3 linked regions of the Homo sapiens genome follow. The protein of the gene in region 2 interacts with the protein of the main gene of each other region in a pairwise test. Each region holds a gene or a part of one and is shown on either strand. Other genes may lie near its edges.

Evidence for each region.
Region 1: the proteins of RAP1GDS1 (region 2) and PTPRF interact in a two-hybrid assay, tested with the Homo sapiens proteins (one study listed by BioGRID).
Region 3: the proteins of RAP1GDS1 (region 2) and PLEKHB1 interact in binary tests that used the Homo sapiens proteins (3 or more experiments, as listed by UniProt).

What each region holds. Positions count from the first base shown.
Region 1 is NC_000001.11:43,533,860-43,540,886, reverse strand, and holds part of PTPRF (receptor-type tyrosine-protein phosphatase F isoform 1 precursor), read right to left. Parts: intron 2,690-7,027; 5' UTR 2,610-2,689; intron 1-2,609. UniProt on the Homo sapiens protein: Possible cell adhesion receptor. It possesses an intrinsic protein tyrosine phosphatase activity (PTPase) and dephosphorylates EPHA2 regulating its activity.
Region 2 is NC_000004.12:98,411,383-98,418,409, reverse strand, and holds part of RAP1GDS1 (rap1 GTPase-GDP dissociation stimulator 1), read right to left. Parts: intron 1,666-7,027; coding exon 1,522-1,665; intron 1,044-1,521; coding exon 912-1,043; intron 1-911. UniProt on the Homo sapiens protein: Acts as a GEF (guanine nucleotide exchange factor) for the Rho family of small GTP-binding proteins (G proteins) that stimulates the dissociation of GDP to enable subsequent binding of GTP.
Region 3 is NC_000011.10:73,656,558-73,663,323, reverse strand, and holds the end of PLEKHB1 (pleckstrin homology domain-containing family B member 1), read right to left. Parts: intron 2,572-6,766; coding exon 2,472-2,571; intron 1,859-2,471; coding exon 1,722-1,858; 3' UTR 505-1,721; downstream 1-504.

The DNA of each region.
Region 1 (7,027 bases), on a different chromosome or scaffold from region 2:
AAACCAACCACTGGATTATGACGGGAATAAATTATAGTCTCAGCCAGGACCCCTGACCCAGGGAAGGAGGGGCCTGTGGGGAAGAGGGTGAGGCCGCCTTCCCTCCTCCAGCCAGTTGGCCAGAATCCGTGAGCAGAGCCAGGAACAGCCCTCCCTCCCACGGCTGGTATCGGGGCTCCCACCAGCTGGACTGAGTCCCACCCTGTTGCAGCTCTCAGTTTCTCCATCTCACTGAGGAGTGGAGGGGGAGATTAGGAGGAGTGTCGCAGAGACTTGGAGGCGGCAAAGGGTCAGCAGGAGACTAACTCTGGAGGCAAATGACCAAAGGGGACCAGCAGAGGTATCTTCCTGCGGCTGTAACCCCTAAGCCTCCAGGCCCCTTCCTCTGGGGCTGGGGTCCCCCTTGGATTACTGTTTCCCAACTTTGTGCCTCCAAGCCTCTGTACCTGCCGTTCTGTCTATTGGAAAAAAATGTCCTTCTCCTGCCCCAGCACTCACTCACCCCTCAGAACTCTGCTCAAGTGGCCCATCACTATCCATCTTCCCCACTGACCCTCCCCAATTTTCCAGGTTTGTACAGTATAGTGAAAGCAGCAAGAGGCTGTAGACCAGAGGTTCTCAATTCAGGGTAATTTTGCCCCCATGGGACATTACGCAACGACTGGAGACATTTTTGATTGTCGAGACTGGGGAAAGCGGGGAGATGCTACTGGCATCTAGGGGGAAGAAACCAGGGATGCTGCTAGACACCCTACAATAACAAGCCCTGCCCCCACAATAAGGGTTATCTGATCCAAAATGTCAATGGTGCTGAGGCTGAGAAACCCCAACACAGACAACAAGATCCTTTGCCAATTGAGCCTAGAGCCTGACCTGGCCCCTGCCCCAGAACCCAATCCCCTGTGGGCACCCTGGGCCTTGTACCCAAGGAAGCTCCAACCTGGCTTAACTCCTGTATTTGCTGGCGCCTGGCCTCAGGATCTCAGAGTATCTTCCCCTGTACCCCCACATCAGCCCTACCCAGCCTCCAGAAGTCAGGTCCTATAGCACACCCCATCTGCACCCCACCAGACATGCCATCAGCTAGTGGCCTCCCGAGAGGACAGAGGGCTCCACCTTCAGGTACCTATTCTGGCAAGACTGGACTTCGAGTTAGGTCAGACCATCATCTGAGGATGGAGAGGCAAAGGGACACATAGTGTCCCTACACCCACCCTCCCCATCTGACCTTTCCAGCCTGTGACACAGCCCCTCTTGCTGCACCCTCTACATAACCCCAGTGCCCATCTCACCAAACGTAGGGTCTGGACCCCAGGAGACACCCAGGACATACACATTTCCTTCCCCTACCCAGGCCAGACCCATCTCTTCCACAGCCTTGTTAGTTCAGCCACCCGTCCAGATGTTCAGTGGGCAGGGTGATGAACAAGAGAGTCACAGGCTCTGCCTTCGAGGAGCTTACAGAGGGTGAACAGACCCACCGAGCTCTTGGCTCAGGATGGCCCAACCAGAACTCATCTGCCCCAATTCCACTCCTCCTCCAGGGTGTCCAGTCTTGGGGACAGCACCACCATGTTGTCAGTCACCAAGCCCGCAAACCCTCCTTAAATGCTCCCTTGTCCTCATCCCACACATCTAACCCATCAATAAGTTTGAATCTGACCTGCCTCCATCCTCACTGCCACTGTGTTAGTAAGACCTCATCACTTCCTGCCTCTTTGGTGGGCTTCCTGCCTTCAATCACTCCCAACCCATCCCGCACACAGACCAGTGCCACCTTTCAGCACATAAAAATGCAAATCTGCACTTTTGTTTGCCACTTTATTTCACAGCAGGCATTCAGACAGTGTTCCGTGAAAGAATGAACGGATGGGCAATGGACAGATCAACACATGGATATTGCTTCTCTGCTTAAGAACCTTCAATGCTGCTGTATTGCCCTCAGGAAAAAGTCTAAAGTCTTTAGCCTGACATCCAAGGCCCATGATGCTGACTCTAAACCAACTTACCAACCTCATTCCCTGCAACTCCAGCCCACCCATTCTGTGCTTCTAACAGACAGAGAGGAGAACAAGGGGACATCAAAGAGATGCAGAGGACATGCCCAGATCCTGCAGGCACCAAGCTCTTTCTACGACAACCTACAGTCGATGGGAACAGTCTTTTCTACAGAAACGTGGCGAATGGAGAAGCAGAAGAAAGATCCTGGTGTAAGTCCCAGGACATCACCCGGAAGCCTATTTCACACCTACAGTAGCTGACGAGCTGTATGTCATTCCCCATCCACCTCTATCATCCACTCCAGCCAGAAACTCAGGCACCATCCTTGACACCTCCCCTCCTTCATGCCCCACATTCAATCCTTCACCACGTCCTGTCTACTCTACCTCCCTAAATAGCACTCACATCCCTTCTCTCCACTTCTGTCACTGCCTCCCTGGTCCAGGCCTCCACAATCTCTCACCAGTGCACACTGGATCATGTCATGCCCCCTGCTGACACCCCCTCTATAGCTCTCCACTGACCCTGCATCAAATCCAAGCTGCTCAGCCTGGTCCATAGGACCCCTGTGCACCCCTGCTCCTGGCCACTCTGTGGGGCACACTCACCGAGTCTTTGCTTCTTCACCCCGGTCACTCTTGCTGGATACTCAGCACCAAGGGCCGGGCACCAGGGCCTCCACTCCTTCCTGGACAGAAAGGAAAGCATGAGAAAACATCAAGAATTTCATCACAACAGCATATGTATTGACACAGAAAGACATTAAAAATTTGCTGTTTATGCAGAAAAAAAAGCAGGTTATGGAAATGTTCATGTAGAACCATCCCCATCTGGTAAAAATGCCCATCTTTTCCCTTCACTCCCTCGCTCATTCATTTTGATACTCCCTAAGCACCTACTATGTGCTGGGCGTCCTTCCAGGCACCAGCCATATAGCTGTGAGCCACACAGACCAAGTCCCTGACCTCAGCAGTAGACTCTGTGGCCCAGCTCCTCAGCATGACCCCAGAGCCAAGCAGAGTCGGCCCCTCCCACCTCTGCAGCCCTACCTGCCCATGCTCTCCTCCTGCCAGAACGGGAACTTCCTCTTCTGATCCTCAAATGTGCCAAATTTCTTCCTGTCTCCCAGCCTTGCCAGTGCTGAATGCCACTGCCTGGCACAGGCTACCCATGCTCTTCTGGCCAACTTACCCTCGGATCTCAAGTCCAGTGGCACTTTCTCAGGGAAGCCTTCCACAATGTCCCAGACTACCTGCCTGGACCTTGGCTTGGAGCCGTGACCACAAACATGACTATTTATATATTTTTACAATTACTGAGTCACTACCATAAGCTTGATAGGAGCATGGACTGTGGCTGCCCAGCTCATTTCCGTATCCCCAGCGCCTGGCTGACAGCTGGCACATAGTAGGTGCTCAGTCAGCATACACTGAATGAGTGGATGAACGCATGAATGAGTTCAAAGAAAACAGCCCAGCCTGGAAGAACACACCCCAACATACATGCCAGTCTTCAAAGAAGCTTCAGAAGCAATATTTATTTTTGACTTTCTCTACTCTATAATTTTTAAAATGAAGGCGTGCCCCTGGATGCCTCCTCCGCTGGCACACATGCAGCGACAGAGCCCAGCCCCTTCCTTCTAGAGCCATTATTGAGTCCCCACCAGCGTGGGTACCATCCTGGGTGGGGGTGGGGGTCAGACACACCCATACCACCTCATCACCACTTCACGGAAGCTCAGCTGTTTGGCCTACTCGACGCAAGCTGCACCTTGCAGCAGGCTTCTCACCTCAAGCCCCCACATGCACAGTGATCCCCACCCCACACCACTCTGCCACCTTGGCTCCTCCTATAACGGACACAAAGAAACCACAGTGGGAGGGTGGTGCGTGGGAATGTCCTCACCGGCCCAAGACTGACCCTCATCATGAAATCAAGGACACACCTCTGCACCTGGGAATTACCCTCAAGTTGCACTAACCACCTCTGCCAATATGGGGGTACTCTCACCGACTGAAGGCCATCCCAACTGACCCAAGATGGCCCTCGCCAGCTTGGCGACCCAGCCTCCACTGCCCCACCTACCTGCACCAGAACCCGCAGCCCTCTCTGCATGCTTCCCTCCCCGCTCCCCAAGCTGAGTTTCCAGCAGCTGCTGCTCCCAGCATACAGGCTGCCCAGCAGGTCTGGCCAGACAAACCAGCTTCCAGGCCCCAAACTTAAAGGCCCATTTGTCTAGAGATGCCCGCAGGGCCTCACAGTATTCAAGTGAGGTTTTTGGCTGCACCATTGTGCAGAGACCCTGGGCAGAGGGGCAGAGTCCAAGGCAGGGAACTGGGTAATGGGAAAGGCCCCCCAAGCTGGCCAGGCGCTGCTGCCACACCCAGCCACAGCAGGGTCTCGTGCTTGGAGACTGAGACAGGCCCTACATGGAGCAGAAGCCACACCTGGAAAGAGGTGTGTACCCAAAGTGGCCAGGGGCCATTTTAGAAGACTAAACATTTGCAAAGACCCTGAGGCACACAGAACAGCATGAGGGCAGGATCCTAGAAAAGCCAAACAGTAACTTTGAACCACGTCAGTCTGGGATCAAACTGACCTCAAAACAACCTATCAGGCAACCAAATAAAGACTCAGATTCACCAACTGCAGCTCCCAGAACCCACTCTACACTCACACTGGGACAGAGCCCAGAACAACCAGGACAACCAGATACACCCCCAGAACAGAGCCAGAGCTGACATCTGGAAGGTTGACTAGAAAGCTACTCAGAAAGGGCCTGAATGGTTCAGGACCCAAGTTAGAAATCACACTGCTGGCCAGTCACAGTGGCTCACCCCTGTAATCCCGGCACTTTGGGAGGCCAAGGCAGGTGGATCACTTGAGCCAGGAGTTCAAGAGCAGCCTGGACAACATGACAAAACCCTGTCTCTAAAAAAATACAAAAATTAGCCAGGTGGGACTACACCTGTAGTCTCAGTTACTCAGGAGGCTGAGGTGGGAGGATCACTTGAGCCCAGGAGGTGGAGGCTGCAGTGAGCCACGACTGCACCACTACACTCCAGCCTGGGCAACAGAGTGAGATTCTGTTTCAAACCAAAGAGAAAAAGAAAGAAATCACACTGCTTGGCACCCAGGAAGGCCTCAGAAGGGGTGAAGTCCACAGTCATGTCCAATATCAAGAAAGAAAGCCCTTGGGGCCAACGCAGGGCTGGCCCCAGTAGGGTTCCCCATCATCTGCCAGGCCTGAAACCTGGCCCGGCAGTGGGTCAGGAGCAAGTCGATGATACCTAGGGGAATGCAGGCACAGCTGCCCTCTGGAGCAACCCCCAGAATGCCCCTGTGGCTGCACCAGGAACAGTCCCCAGAAACAGCAGCTAAAATACTGCTAAGGAGCTAAAACCAGAGTTCTCAGACCTAGAAGTCACGGTCACACAGAGACATGGTGCATCTGGACCACAGAGGCAGATGGTGGCAGAAAGAGCCTCAGTAGAAGCCCAGGGCCCAGGGAGGGTGGGAGGAAATGGAGAACTCAATACCCCAAGGCTGCCCCTTCTCAAAATTCCCTTCCACCTACCCCAAACATGGAGTCTCTTCTGCAGGCCTCACCTCTAGTCTTCTCAAGCCCACCCACCTGAAGGTCAAACACCTGAGCAACACAAACAATCCCATCGATAACAATAGGGGCAGGCACCCCCTTTGTTGAGCTCCTTGACCTGCTAATCTCAGCTCAGAATTGCAGCAACCTTAGGCAGACAGGGACCCTAACCTTAGCAGTCTATCTTCTCATTAAAGGCAACCTCATGTGACCCCTGATGGGAGGGTGGGTTTACACCATCCCAGTTGAGGATGATTACAGTAACTGCAAACACAGACAACAGTACTCACTAGATGCCAAGCCCTGTGCTACACACACTTTATGCATACTATCTTTAATCCTCATAACAACCCTTATAAGGCACGGGTTTTTATTATAATCATTTGACAAATGAGGAAGCGGATTCAGAGAGGTTAAGCCACTTGCTTAAAGTCACGCTGCTAGTAAACAGAGTCCAATCCTAGCAGTATAAAACTCGAGCTCTTCACCACTGTCGGAGGTTACTTTCTCTCGAGGTGCACAGCTCTATGGTCTCTCATACAGCTCTCGCTTCTCTTGGTCCGACCGACATTTCTCTCCCATACCCTCACACCAAAGCCCCTCCTTGATGTGCCTCCCCCACTGAGCCTCCAATGTCCCAAGTACCTCAAGGGCCACATGTCCAACTAAGAGCTTATTCTCTGCCCCTCCTCACCAAGTCCCTAACACAGTGAAGCTTCAGGGCCTTCAGTGAAGGCCCGCTCAACCACTCCGAGGAACCTGGACTCCTTCCTCTTCCTCTCCTTCACTCCCACATCCAATAAATCATTCTGTCCTGACAAGTGTACCTTCAAGATGGCACCATGCTACCACCTATCAAAGCCAGCATCTTCTCTCACCTTACTTACCTGCACCCTCTTGCCCCACTGGGCATCCTGTCTCCATCCTTTTCCCATAGCCACAGAGCATTTTCTGGAAACATAAACCTGACCACAGCACACTCCACCCTCCCTATCCAAGCTTTAAACCTTTGGTGTTTTCTCTCTGGGTTCTCAGAGTAAAATTACAGGTACTTAACAGGGCATTCAATGCCCTCTGTGATCTGCCACATCTCTGAATACTTCACAAGTGACAACACCTCCCAGTCTTTATTCATACTGGTTTTTATCTATCTCAAGTCCTTTCTCTCTTCTTCAAACTCCTACTCATCCCTCCAAACCTAGTTCACATCACTTCTTCTTGGTCTCCTCTGGGACTCACCTCACCCTGACCTCCGAACTCTCCCCCGTCTCTTGATGAACTCTTGCAATGTTCTAACCCAACTCAGAACCGCAGCTGCTTTAGTTGAGCAGATGCCTGAACCTTAGGGGTGGGCTGCCTCTTCTACATAGCTGTTAGTCCCAAAGGAAGAAAGGCAGCCGGGGCCGAAAGCGCCTACCCCGGGGTCTG
Region 2 (7,027 bases):
AGATAATATATCAGAAGTAGAAACACATGGTTAGAATGTCCAATATTTTTCATTTATTGTGATGTATGCTTGTGTTCTCCCAATGTTACAGTGATAGTACTCTACCTTTTGCTATCATGGCTGATACCTAAATTATTTTTCAAACACTTACAAAGCGGAGAGAATATTATAATGAACCACTATTTACCCCATATCTAGTTTCAATAATTATCCATATTATGCCACTCTTACCTCCATAATTAGGAAGTCACTCCCAAAAAGAAGGAGTAAAAATGGAGCAAGTAAGCCATTATGATATAATATATACCAACAGTTTGTACTGGAAGATGATTAAACTAAAAAGAAAAATAAACTGTATTTCCTAGACACGGTATATTTCATGAGGAACGTAAGAATGAGTTTCTAGACTGTATTTGAGTTTTTTGGTAGTGCCAGATTTCATAAACATAGAAGTCTGGCGCCCCCTGAAACATTATTAAACTAAATTAAACATTCTACACGATGCCAGGGGATTATTCATACTTAAGTTTTATGGGCATAAAAGTATATAAGTTGAGGCACAATAATCCTAGAATGAATACTCAGATAATTAGATCCAAAATAAAATCACTAGGCAAAAGAAAGCAGATGTATACTAGAATGGGATTCAAACTTACTAAGCTCTGAAGTGCCAAGTATTCAAAAGAAGCACTTCATGATATTTAAACTATTAGAATTTAGTTGAATTGCATAAAATATGTAATTTGTTAGGAATGTCACTAAGTATTTCAGATTTCTGAAAAATTAAGTTAGCAGCATATACACATATTACACAACTTCTAAACTGTTCCAGTTTTAGTATATGTGGTAGCAAAGCAAAAATAAACAAATATAGAGTATTTGACTAACAAAGGAGGAACTAATATGCTTACCATTTCTGGCAAAATTTGCAATTGCCAATGCTCCAGCAAGCTGTAGCTGGTGGTTATTTGATGGGATCCAAGAGAGTACCCTTTGAAATACACTACCTTTTCCTCCTTCAAATAACTTCTGCATGGATTCATCTGGAGGTAAATGAAACGAATAGTTAAGCAAGAGAAAAATAACTAGGAGTAACAAATTCACATTCTTAGGTGAATATCCAACTGGAAACTCACACCTCACAAACTGTTACATTCATAATGGGAAAAGTAATGATTCTTTTTATAATAAACATTTAATAGATACTAGACAATAGAGTCTAGCATTTTTTCTAGTCCAAGTCCCAGGGAGCCATCTAGCTTTTCTTTAGTCCCTTGGTGCCAAAGCTATCTCTTCTATGTGACAGCTCTTCAAATACTGGAAGATAGTGAAGACACTTCTTTTTCAGGTTCATTATGTCTGGTTGTATCAATGGCATGTTTAAGATGTCAAAATCATCACCTCAATAGCAGGTGAGATAGGAATATGAGAAAATGTCTAGGGTAGTATTTACAGAAGAGACAATAAATTTTAAAAACATCTGACAACCACATTCTTTGGCTGGCATAAATTACAACTCACCTCCAAGAAGTAATAAAACCATGAGATCTGAACCAGTTTTGAGCTCAGTAATATCATCTTCTTTGTCACTATCCACTTTTTGCTGAACAATCTCTAGTAGACACTCTACTAGGCCTGCTTCAACCAGCTGTAGTTTAATAGCATCTAAAGAACAACGTGAACAAAATAATCAAACTTTGAGATAAAATAGGAGCTCTGGTATAAGCAGTCCATTATAAAGAATTATAAGAAACTAAGAGGGCCAGGTGCGGTGGCTCACGCCTGTAATCCCAGCACTTTGGGAGGCCGAGATGGGCGGATCACAAGGTCAGGAGATCGAGACCATCCTGGCTAACACCATGAAACCCCGTCTCTACTAAAAAATACAAAAAAAAATTAGCCAGGTGCAGTGGCAGGCGCCTGTAGTCACAGCTACTCAGGAGGCTGAGGCAGGAGAATGGCGTGAACCTGGGAGGCGGAACTTGCAGTGAGCCAAGATTGCAACACTGCACTCCAGCCTGGGCAATAGAGCGAGACTCTGTCTCAAAAAAAAAAAAAAAAAAAAAAAAAAAAAACTAAGAAAATGCATGATTTAGATAATACATTTTTGAAACTCAAATCTTCAAAGTAAACTATCTTGACAGTTCATTTAAATATACAAAAAAGCTTTATTTCATATTTCCATTTGAAATTGCCAAATTTTTCAGGATGTCTTGCAGCATCTAAACAAATTGATACTCAGCTCTGAAAGCAACTAGTATCACTCCACTATTACTCTAGATATCATGCTCATGTTTAAAGGGCAAGCTATAAAATACTATAAAATAGGGCTGGGCATGGTGGCTTACACTTGTAATCCCAGTGCTTTGGGAGGCCAAGGCAGGAAGATTGCTTGAGGCCAGGAGTTCAAGGTTACAGTAAGCTATGACTGTGCCACTGCACTCCAGTCTGGGCAACAGAGTGAGACCCTGTCTATAAAAATTAAATAAATAAATAAATAAAGTCGTGTTTTTAAAAAGGGCTTCAGGTTTTCATTGATTTAAAGCTTTCTTGAGTGATGGGTACATGGTGGTTTACTAAATGCTATTTCTGAATACATTTCAAAATGTTCATAATAAAAGTTAAAAGAAAAAAATAACCTTGAACCTTTCTGATGGCTAAACATAACATAAGGTATTTTAGAGACAGAATTTACATCCCAATTACATTTTTAAAACTGATCTTCATAGGAAACTCCACCCCCACATCAACACTTTTTATTATACTTCTAATATCTTTAAGTATTCTTTCATTATAACACTTATTTCACTGAAGAGCTTATATTTGCCTCCATATCTGTCTCCATCTATCTCCTGAGCAGATATATGTTGTGGGAAGTCAGGGACCCCAAATGGTGGGACTGGCTGGCACCGTGGCAGAAAAACATAAATTGTGAAGATTTCATGGACATTTATCAGTTCCCAAATAATACTCATAATTTCTTATGCCTGTCTTTACTTTAATCTCTTAATCCTGTTATCTTTGTAAGCTGAGAATGTACATCACCTCAGGATCACTATTGTACAAACTGATTGTAGAACATGTGTGCTTGAAAAATATGAAGTCTGATTGTAAAACATGGGTGTTTGAACAATATGAAATCAGTGCACCTTGAAAACAAACAGAATAACAGTGATTTTACAGAACAAGAGAAGACAACCAAAGGTCTGACTGCCTGCAGGGTCAGGCAGAATAGAGCCATATTCTTCTTCTTGCAGAGAGCCTATAAACGGATGTGCAAGTAGGAGAGATATCACTGAATTCTTTTCTCAGCAAGGAATATTAATAATACCCTGGGGAATACAAAATCAATGTACAAAAATCACAAGCATTCTTATACACCAACAACAGACAAACAGAGAGCCAAATCATGAGTGAATTCCTATTCACAATTGCTTCAAAGAGAATAAAATACCTAGGAATCCAACTTACAAGGGATGTGAAGGACCTCTTCAAGGAGAACTACAAACCACTGCTCAAGGAAATAAAAGAGGATACAAACAAATGGAAGAACATTCCATGCTCATGGGTAGGAAGAATCAATATCGTGAAAATGGCCATACTACCCAAGGTAATTTACAGATTCAATGCCATCCCCATAAAGCTACCAATGACTTTCTTCACAGAATTGGAAAAAACTACTTTAAAGTTCATATGGAACCAAGAAAGAGCCCGCATCGCCAAGTCAATCCTAAGCCAAAAGAACAAAGCTGGAGGCATCACACTACCTGACTTCAAACTATACTACAAGGCTACAGTAACCAAAACAGCATGGTACTGGTACCAAAACAGAGATATAGATCATTGGAACAGAACAGAGCCCTCAGAAATAATGCCGCATATCTACAACTATCTGATCTTTGACAAACCTGAGAAAAACAAGCAATGGGGAAAGGATTCCCTACTTAATAAATGGTGCTGGGAAAACTGGCTAGCCATATGTAGAAAGCTGAAACTGGATCCCTTCCTTACACCTTAGACAAAAATCAATTCAAGATGGATTAAAGATTTAAATGTTAGACCTAAAACCATAAAAACCCTAGAAGAAAACCTAGGCATTACCATTCAGGACATAGGCATGGGCAAGGACTTCATGTCCAAAACACCAAAAGCAATGGCAACAAAAGACAAAATTGACAAATGGGATCTAATTAAACTAAAGAGCTTCTGCACAGCAAAAGAAACTACCATCAGAGTGAACAGGCAACCTACAAAATGGGAGAAAATTTTCGCAACCTACTCATCTGACAAAGGGCTAATATCCAGAATCTACAATGAACTCAAACAAATTTACAAGAAAAAAACAACCCCATCAAAAAGTGGGCGAAGGACATGAACACACACTTCTCAAAAGAAGACATTTATGCAGCCAAAAAACACATGAAAAAATGCTCATCATCACTGGCCATCAGAGAAATGCAAATCAAAACCACATGAGATACCATCTCACACCAGTTAGAATGGCAATCATTAAAAAGTCAGGAAACAACAGGTGCTGGAGAGGATGTGGAGAAATAGGAACACTTTTACACTGTTGGTGGGACTGTAAACTAGTTCCACCATTGTGGAAGTCAGTGTGGCGATTCCTCAGGGATCTAGAACTAGAAATTCCATTTGACCCAGCCATCCCATTACTGGGTATATACCCAAATGACTATAAATCATGCTGCTATAAAGACACATGCACATGTATGTTTATTGCGGCATTATTCACAATAGCAAAGACTTGGAACCAACCCAAATGTCCAACAATGATAGACTGGATTAAGAAAATGTGGCACATATACACCATGGAATACTATGCAGCCATAAAAAATGATGAGTTCATGTCCTTTGTAGTGACATGGATGAAATTGGAAATCATCATTCTCAGTAAACTATCGCAAGAACAAAAACCAAACACTGCATATTCTCACTCATAGGTGGGAATTGAACGATGAGATCACATGGACACTGGAAGGGGAATATCACACTCTGGGGACTGTGGTGGGGTGGGGGGAGCGGGGAGGGATAGCATTGGGAGATATACCTAATGCTAGATGACGAGTTAGTGGGTGCAGCGCACCAGCATGGCACATGTATACATATGTAACTAACCTGCACAATGTGTACATGTACCCTAAAACTTAAAGTATAATAAAAAAAAAAATAGTAATACCCTGGGGAAGGAATTGCATTCCTGGGGGGAGGTCTATAAATGGCCGCTCTGGGAGTATCTGTCTTATGCGGTTGAGATAAGGACTGAAATACGCCCTGGTCTCCTGCAGTACCCTCAGGCTTATTAGGGTGCGGAAAAGATCCCGCCCTGGTAAGTTTGAGGTCAGACCGGTTCTCTGCTCTCGAACGCTGTTTTCTGTTGTTTAAGGTGTTTATCAAGATAATACGTGCACAGCCAAACATAGACCCTCATCAGTAATTCTAATTTTGCCCTTTGCCTTGTGATCTTTGCTTTGCCCTTGCCTTGTGATCTTTATTGCCCTGTAAAGCACGTGATCTTTGTGACCTACTCCCTGTACACTCCCTCCCCTTTTGAAATCCCTAATAAAAACTTCCTGGTTTTGTGGCTCAGGGGACATCACGGACCTACCGATATGTGATGTCACCCCTGGAGGCCCAGCTGTAGAATTCCTCTTTTTGTACTCTTTCTCTATTTCTCAGATGGGCCGACATTTAGGGAAAATAGAACATACATTGAAATATTGGGGGCTGGTTCCCCCAATAGATACACCTTACTCATCTTTGTATCTTAACCTAAACTGGCCTATCTAAATGCTTTGAGTGTAGTTGATACTCCTTAAGATAAATGCTAGTCAACTCACCTGAAAAATACATTTGCAACACAGATTTTTTGTTTAAGAGACAGTGTCTCGCTCCGTTGCCCAGGCTGGAGCGCAGTGGTATGATCATAGCTCACTGCATCCTTGAACTCCTGGGCTCAAGCAATCCTCCTATCTCAGCCTCCTGAGTAGCTGGGACTAAAAGTGCATGCCACCATGCCTGGCTAATTTTTAAACTTTTTTTGTAGAGACAGGGTCTCACTATGTTGCCTAGGCTGGTCTTGAACTCATGGCCTCAAGCAATCTTCCTGCCTTGGCCTCCCAAAGTGCTAGGATTACAGGCATGAGCCACTGTACCTGGCCAGAAATTTTTAAATTTAAACTTTATTTTTTCAGTTGGATTTTATTTTAGTCATTGGTTTCCCTAAGCTGTATATGCATCCATATATGGCAATGGCAGCTTCAGCTTATCATTTAGGAAAAATAAAGACTTTTAAAAATAAATACTTAAGACTTTCAGGCAATTTTAATGTGTTAAAATTTGGCTTTTTTGAATCACTAGGATCACTGATCTTCTTTTGAATATTATCTCAGAATACACAGAGTATTCAACCTGGAATATTTCTTTAAAAGGTACACTTGTACTGTGCCATGCTAAAAGTAGGGCGTTTCCTTGGTTACAGAATGCTAGGGCTAGAGATGTGTGGTGACTAGAATTAAAAACTATGATGAAAAAGCCTTAAAAATACTAAAATCCTTGAACTATACAAATCCCAACTTCTAATGCTGAAATCACTCTCCTTCGTGTACTGGGAAAATGAAGGATGATACATGCAAAGAATTAGTCCAAAAACAAGCCTTCAATGGTATCATCCTATCCATTGTGCAATTATAAAACAGATGTGAAGGCAGAGGGGAAAACAGTAATAAATATCAACACATTGTTATTTTGAAATACTGCAAGGAAAGTTATAGGTTATTTTATGGCCTAAAATTGACTGAAGGTCACAGTAAAATTTTTACTTTGCCAAAACACCAATGAGATAAAAAACAAATTTCTCCCTAAGAAATAGGACCTAAGACATTTAAGAAATTTTAAATGTGTCAATATTGTAGTTTTAAAATTTTAATTAATTTTTTTTTTTGAGACAGGGTCTTGCTGTGTTGCCCAGGTTGGTCTTGAACTCCTGGCTCAAGCAATCCTTCTGCCT
Region 3 (6,766 bases), on a different chromosome or scaffold from region 2:
CTTCTCAGTTATGTGGCTTAACCTTTTCCCTTTGGCTTAAATCAGTTTGAACAGGGAGTTTCTATCTGACAGCCCCAAGAAGCCTGATGCAGGATGATGGTGTTTCCTTTCCTGACCACCTGGTTTTCTATGAGAACAATTCATTGATTCAACTCTAGAAGGATGGGAACCTACTGGAAAAGACTCCAACATGAACAGGATTCTCAGAAAGCAGGCAGGACCTGGCTTGGATCATCCATCAGCTCAGACAACAGAGACTCCAAGGCAGTCCCTCCTCTTGAGCCCTCAGGAATGGTCAACTTCAACCAGCTACCTTAAGTGTAGGGAAAACAAAATCCAGAAAGGTTAAGTGACTTGCCCCAAATGACTCAGCTAATATGCTGTCACCAGTTCCAACTGATCTCAGAATCCACACTCTTTTTCACTAGACCAGTGAAGGCACTAGTAGCTGCTGGATCATGGAGAGGGAAACAGGGCCTTCTGGGGGAACAAAGCAAGCCACAGTTACTGCTAGAGCCAACCAAATCTTTATTAGTCTCGGCAGCAGAACTAATGGAGCCCCCATTTACAGGGGAGCTTTAGTGGGCTAGTCTGGCTACCAGGCAGGGATGTTAGCATTTCTATTGGTGATTGGGATAGAAAGGGGGAAGAGACTGGAAGGGAACCAAAGGGGGAGACTGGTGGACCACCTGAGGGCAGGCACAGATGGGGCTTCCTGGGCTGGTGTAGAGGTGGATCAGGCCCCAGAGGAGAACACTGCCATCTTATTCAGAATGAAGGATGAGACAAAGCCTGAGAGGGTGACAGTCACAGCTACAAAGAGAGGGCCGAGCTCCTGGTGTGAGAGGCATTTCTGGACGGAGGCAGCTTTCTAGGGCTGGAAGTCTCAAATAGAACTCACCTGTTCCCCAACCAGGGGTCCCCAGGTTCAGCTCAATTGTTATCATGGGTACCAGCCAGGAAGCTGTTTGTGGGAAGGATGGGACTTGACTCAGGAGTGTTTTAGGTATGGACATGTGTCAGTATTCACAAAACAGGCAATATATTCATTATAGATGCAATCATGAAACTTCCCTCCAGAGAAGGCTCACATCTCCCCTTTCACCTAGGAAGCTCCTTAGCTTGAAGGCCCACCACGGTCTGATCCCAGCCTCCACCCCAGCCCAAATGAACTCCCATTTAATTCCTTGGACATGCCATGACGTTCACGGCTCTGCATACTTGCCAATAACTGTTCTTCCAGCCTACCTGTCTTGCTCCCTGCCCCACCTGTCCTTGTCAAAGGACTGATAACTCTTCAGCTTTGTCAAGTCCTTGTTTACTCCTGTTCTCCCCACCAGGACTCGAGCTCCCTAAGGAGAGAGCAGAGAGCCCGATTCATGTTGTGTCTACAGCGCCTGGGGAACTCGAAGCCAAATGAAGTCGTATTTGCTGTGCCCTGTTGTGTTTAGAGGAAATGTATCCATAAATGTCTATAACAGATTTTGGGGGTGTCTAGTGGTAGATGTGAAGACTTCAAGCGATGTTTGTACCTGTGATGATAGCTTCTTCCCATGTGGGGATTAAGGGTAGGGAGTGGGGGGAATGGTCCAAACCCGGAAGGAGCTAATGGAGAGGATAGGGCCAAAGTGGGACAGGGCTTGGATGGTAGAGGATGGGGTCCAGGAGGAAGAGGAGTCTAGCAATCCAAGCGCAGGGGTCAGTGCTCCGAGTCCCAGGGCTCAGAACCAGCAGGGCGACCACATGAGCGAGCCCAGCGCCGCCCCAGTGGCGGCTCCCGCAAGCATGCCCATGGCCAGAGGGGCGCCGGCGCTGTAGCAGGGATCCTCCCGCACTATCACGTGCGTCACGCCAGGGCCTGCAGAGGGAGACAGCCCATGAGGATCAGCGACTTAGGAGGGAGTAGAGTGATCTTCGTACCCTTCCTGCATCACTCCAGCCCAACCCAGTGTAAGGCGCCGAACCCACTCTCCTGCTCCCCAGTCAAAGAACAGATCTAGACGCGGGAAGAGCTCCACCCTACGGCTCCCAGGCCTTGGATCGGCTACGGATGTCCCGGAACCTACGGGTCCGCTACGGCAGGCTAGGGCGGAGCAGCGAGGAAACCCTGAGATCGCTAAGCACAACCACCAGGCGCCTAACGATGGGCATTCCCAACCGCCAGGCCCCAGAGCGGGGAGGAGGCAGCATTCCCGCAGTAGCCACCAGGGGCCGCTACCGGCTCAGGAATGGGTATTGCCGACCGCAGGGCTGAGGAGCCATCCCAGAAGGGTGAGGTCAGCTCGAGACGAACGCTGGTTCCAGAGCTCTCCCAGTCTCAGGATGGAGAGGGGCTTGCGGAGAGTTCTGCCTGGGAAAATCCGTGCACGCTAAAAGGATGAAGCCTGGTCCGGACTTACGGACCGTGGGCTGGGCCTGGCGCTGAATCGGTGCTGGATCGAGGCAAGCCCCGGGGCACGCTGGAGACTTACCTGCGTAGGGCGGTCCGTAGTAGCTGCGGACATACGTGGCCTCGTGTGCATTGGGGGGCACCACCTCGTAGTAGTCTTGGTACGGGCTGTAGACGCGCACCTGGGGAATCCAACCATGTCAGGTGCCCAGGAACTCCCTGGCCCGGATTTGGTCCCCTACCCCCACGCCTGGCACAGGCCTCTCTGGGATCCATGGAGCCACCTCCCCAAGTTTAGAAATGGGCCTCCAGCCACTAGCAAGCTCTTGGAGAAAGGCCCTGCCCTCCCCACAAGGTCCACGGTCCTCTAAAACTTCTGCCCTACATCCAGCTCCCAGTGACACCCATTCTCCAACTCTGGCCTCCCACCTAGCTCAAAAAATTCTCTATGGCTCCCAATTTCTCCTTATAGGTAGTCTAATATTTGCTAGCAGCTCTACAATAATGCCACTTGAAAGACCCAGCTCTACTAGTCACAAGGAGGGGAACATGGCCAAGCCCCAGGCCCAGGAAATAAACAGGGGTTGGGGAGGAAGGAAGGGAAAGGAAGGATAGGGATGAGAAGTAACTAAAATACAGTTATGCGTCTTTTAAACAACAGGGATACAGTCTGAGAAATGCGTCCTTAGGCAATTTTAGTTATGTGAATATCATAGAGTGTACTTACAAACAAACCTAGGTGGCACACACCTAGAGTATATGGTATATCCTATTGCTCCAAGCCAACAAACCTGTTCAGCAGGCTACTGCCCTGAATACTGTAGGCAATTGTAACACAATGGTATTTGTTATCTAACTAATCATATATAAATGTAGAAAATGTAATGCATTGCCCTACGACATTATCATGGCTACAACATCACTAGGTGATAGGAAATTTTCAGCTCCATTATAATCTTATGGAACCACCTTTGTATATGTGGTCCATCATTGACCCAAAATTGTTAGGCTGCACTAGGCTGTAACGATTATTGAGCACCTACTATGTACCAGGTCCTGAAGGAAGTGATCACGTGTGTTACACCACCTCTAATCCTTAAAGCAGGTATTAGCTCCACATGACCATAGGGTTGGGGACTGAGGCTCAGAGAATGGTCAGTGTTCTCTCTGGAATGCATTCCCTGCCCTCCCCTCTCTCCCATTAGATTTCTGCCAACCCTTCAAAGCCTAGCTCAACGGTCACCCACTCCACTCCAGGAAGCTCTCCTGGTCTCAGGAAGAATTTTTTTTTTCCCTGAATTCTGTGGATCTTGCTTGTGCCTCTTGTTGCTATCCTTTCTCCTGGCCTTTCTTGCAGCCCAAATGTGAGCTGCTTGTAGACAAGGACTCTGATTTGTTTGTGTCACCAGCAGGGCCAAGTGCATACCAGGAACCAAGAACTATGTGCTGAATTAAATGGAAACTCCAAACCCCTCATTTTACCCATGGGGGAGCAGACCTGGAGAGGGGTCAGGATCCCCTTCTCTTCTGGATCTTTCCTCTTAGCCCCATTCCACCCTGTATCTCTCTCTAACTGGGATTCACACCTGAACAGTCCAGCTCCCCTTAGAAGTCCAGGTGTCTCAAACTCCACTCATCTCAAGATGATTGCAACATTTCTCCATCTGCTAAAACTGTTGCTTTTCCCATAAATCTTTTTTTTTTTTTTGAGACAGAGTTTCATTCTTGTTGTCCAGGCTGGAGTGCAATGGCATGGTATCAGCTCACTGCAACCTCCGCCTCCCGGGTTCAAGCGATTCTCCTGCCTCAGCCTCCCAGGTAACTGAGATTACAGGTTCCTGCCACCACGCCTGGCTAATTTTTCTGTATTTTTAGTAGAGACAGGGTTTCACCATGTTCGCCAGGCTGGTCTTGAACTCCTGACCTCAGGTGATCTGCCCGCCTTGGCCTCCCAAAGTACCCAGCCCCATAAATGCTTCTCTCAGTACATGCCATCACCATGCACTCAAATCAAGAAAGGCTAGGCACAGCGGCTTATGCCTGTAATCCCAGCACTTTGGGAGGCTGAGGCGGGAGGATTGCTTGAATGCAGGAGTTCAAGACCAGTCTGGGCAACATGGCAAGAACCTGTCTCTACAAAAAATTAAAAAATTAGCTGAGTGTGGTGATGCATGCCCGTGGGCCCAGCTATTTGGGAAACTGAGGCAGAAGGATCACTTGAGCCCAGGAGATCGAGGCTGCAGTGAGCAGTGTTTGCACCACTGCACTCCAGCCTGGGCAACAGAGGGAGATCCTGTCTCAAAAAAAGAAAGAAAGAAAGAAAAAGAAAGAAGGAAAGAAAGCAGGTTGTTGCCCTTGTCTTCACACATCTGCTTTCCACACATCAGCCACCAGGTCTCGTGATTTTATCTTCTAAATGTGTTCTTCTGCCCATTCTTTTGGCCAATTCCAAGATAATAGGCCACTGGTTTTAGCAACTTGGAAGTTGTGAGTGACCTTGAAAAAACTTTTCAGAGGAGTTGCTGAGTAGGAAAAGCCAAGCTATGGAGGGTTGAAGAAAGGCTGAGAGGTGAAGGATGCAATCCCCATGTCATGACATCTCTTTCAAGAAGTTTGGTGGTAAGGGGAAGGTCTCCAAGCACACCTTGTGATTTCAAATCTCCATGCCATTTTCCTTTGCTAGGGATATGCTTCTCACCTCATTCAACCTGTCTTTCAGACTCAACTCAAGCATCACTCTCCCTGAACCTCAGGTTCTGTTGGGGTCCCATCTGGACACTCACAGCCCTTGGATGTCCCTGCATCACAGCACCGATCATGCTGTCTTCACGTTGTTTCCCTGTGTCTCTCCCATCAGACTTGGAGATGCCTTTGAGGGCAGAGACTGGGTCTAATCAGATCTGACTGGAACATGGCAGGTACCTAATAAATGTTTATTGAATTCATTCCAGTGAATCAAATACAGGGCCAGACTGGAACTAAGGTTGCCCAACTCTGAGTTCAGTTTCAAGTCAGGGAAAACATATAGTCCCAAGACAATGCAAGAGGCTCAGACAAGCAATGTCGTAAGTCAGTGAACTCTACGGTGCTCCCTCCCCATCAGTGATCCAATAGGGATTTCTGGTAGGCAGTGCCAAGATCCAGGCTCCAGGCCCAAAAGGGGTTGGAGGGATCTAAGCTCTCAGGTCCAATTTTATTGGTGGGGAAGTTGAGGTCCACAGCCTCCACCTTGCCCTGCTGCTACACAGTGAGCCAGTGGCCTTGGGAGGCCCTGGAGAGGGTGGAGCACCCCATATCCCTCGAGGGCACCTGTTTTTACTCTCCACGTCTGGGAGGCCCAGAAGTAAACTCCTATAAGTCACCTGGCAACAAATAGGGACAGCCCAGAGACCCATGGGCAGAACCTGAGGGTTTGAACCTGCCTCTCCCTCTCCAGAGGCCCAGCTACTTTGTGGGTACAACCAGTGTTGACCAATCAGGGGGTCACATGCAAATGACTCCCCTTAGCTGAGCTGTTGTGTTATTAGGTTTACAGTCTGTTAAATCCTAGTTTTTGACATCCCCACTTTAAACAAACTTGCATCCTAGTTTGGGCATGGAAAATACCTCAGAACGATGGGCTGGGAGTCCCAGACCTGCCATTGATGAGTTGAGTGACCCTGATCAAGTTAGGTAACCTCTCCAAGCCACTGAGGATCTAACAGTGCCACATCTATACAATTTGGTGGCCCAGGCACTTCTAGGCTTAGTGATTCTGCACATCAGAGTCATCAGGAGACAATTTTTTTTTTTGAGATGGAGTCTTACTCTGTTGCCCAGGCTGGAGTGCAGTGGGGTGATCTTGGTTCACTGCAACCACGTCCGCCTCCTGAGTTCAAGCCATTCTCCTGCCTCAGCCTCCTGAGTATCTGAGATTACACCATGTCTTGCTAATTTTTGTACTTTTAGTAGAGATGGGGTTTCACCATGTTGGCTAGGCAGGTCTTGAACTCCTGACCTTGCAACCTGCCCGCCTCAGCCTCCCAAAGTTCTGGGATTATAGGTGTCAGCCACCAGGCCTGGCCAGGAGACAGGTTTAAACTACAGGTTTCCTAGGCCTAGGCCCCATGCCAGATTAAAACATCCAGAGGTGGAACATGAATACTTGTTATTAGTGCTTGTAAGTTCCTAAACAATCCTGATACATAGCCACACTGAGCACCACTGTGTAAGATGAGCTCAGAGTTGACTATAAGATCACAGGTACTCTCACTCAAGCCCCCTCCTGCCACCCACCCCATGCCAGGCCCTGTGCTGAGTTCTGGGGACAGAGAAAAGATTCAGGCCAGATCCTGCCTTCAAGAAACATTGAGGGTGAGGGGAGACAGACCTAGACTA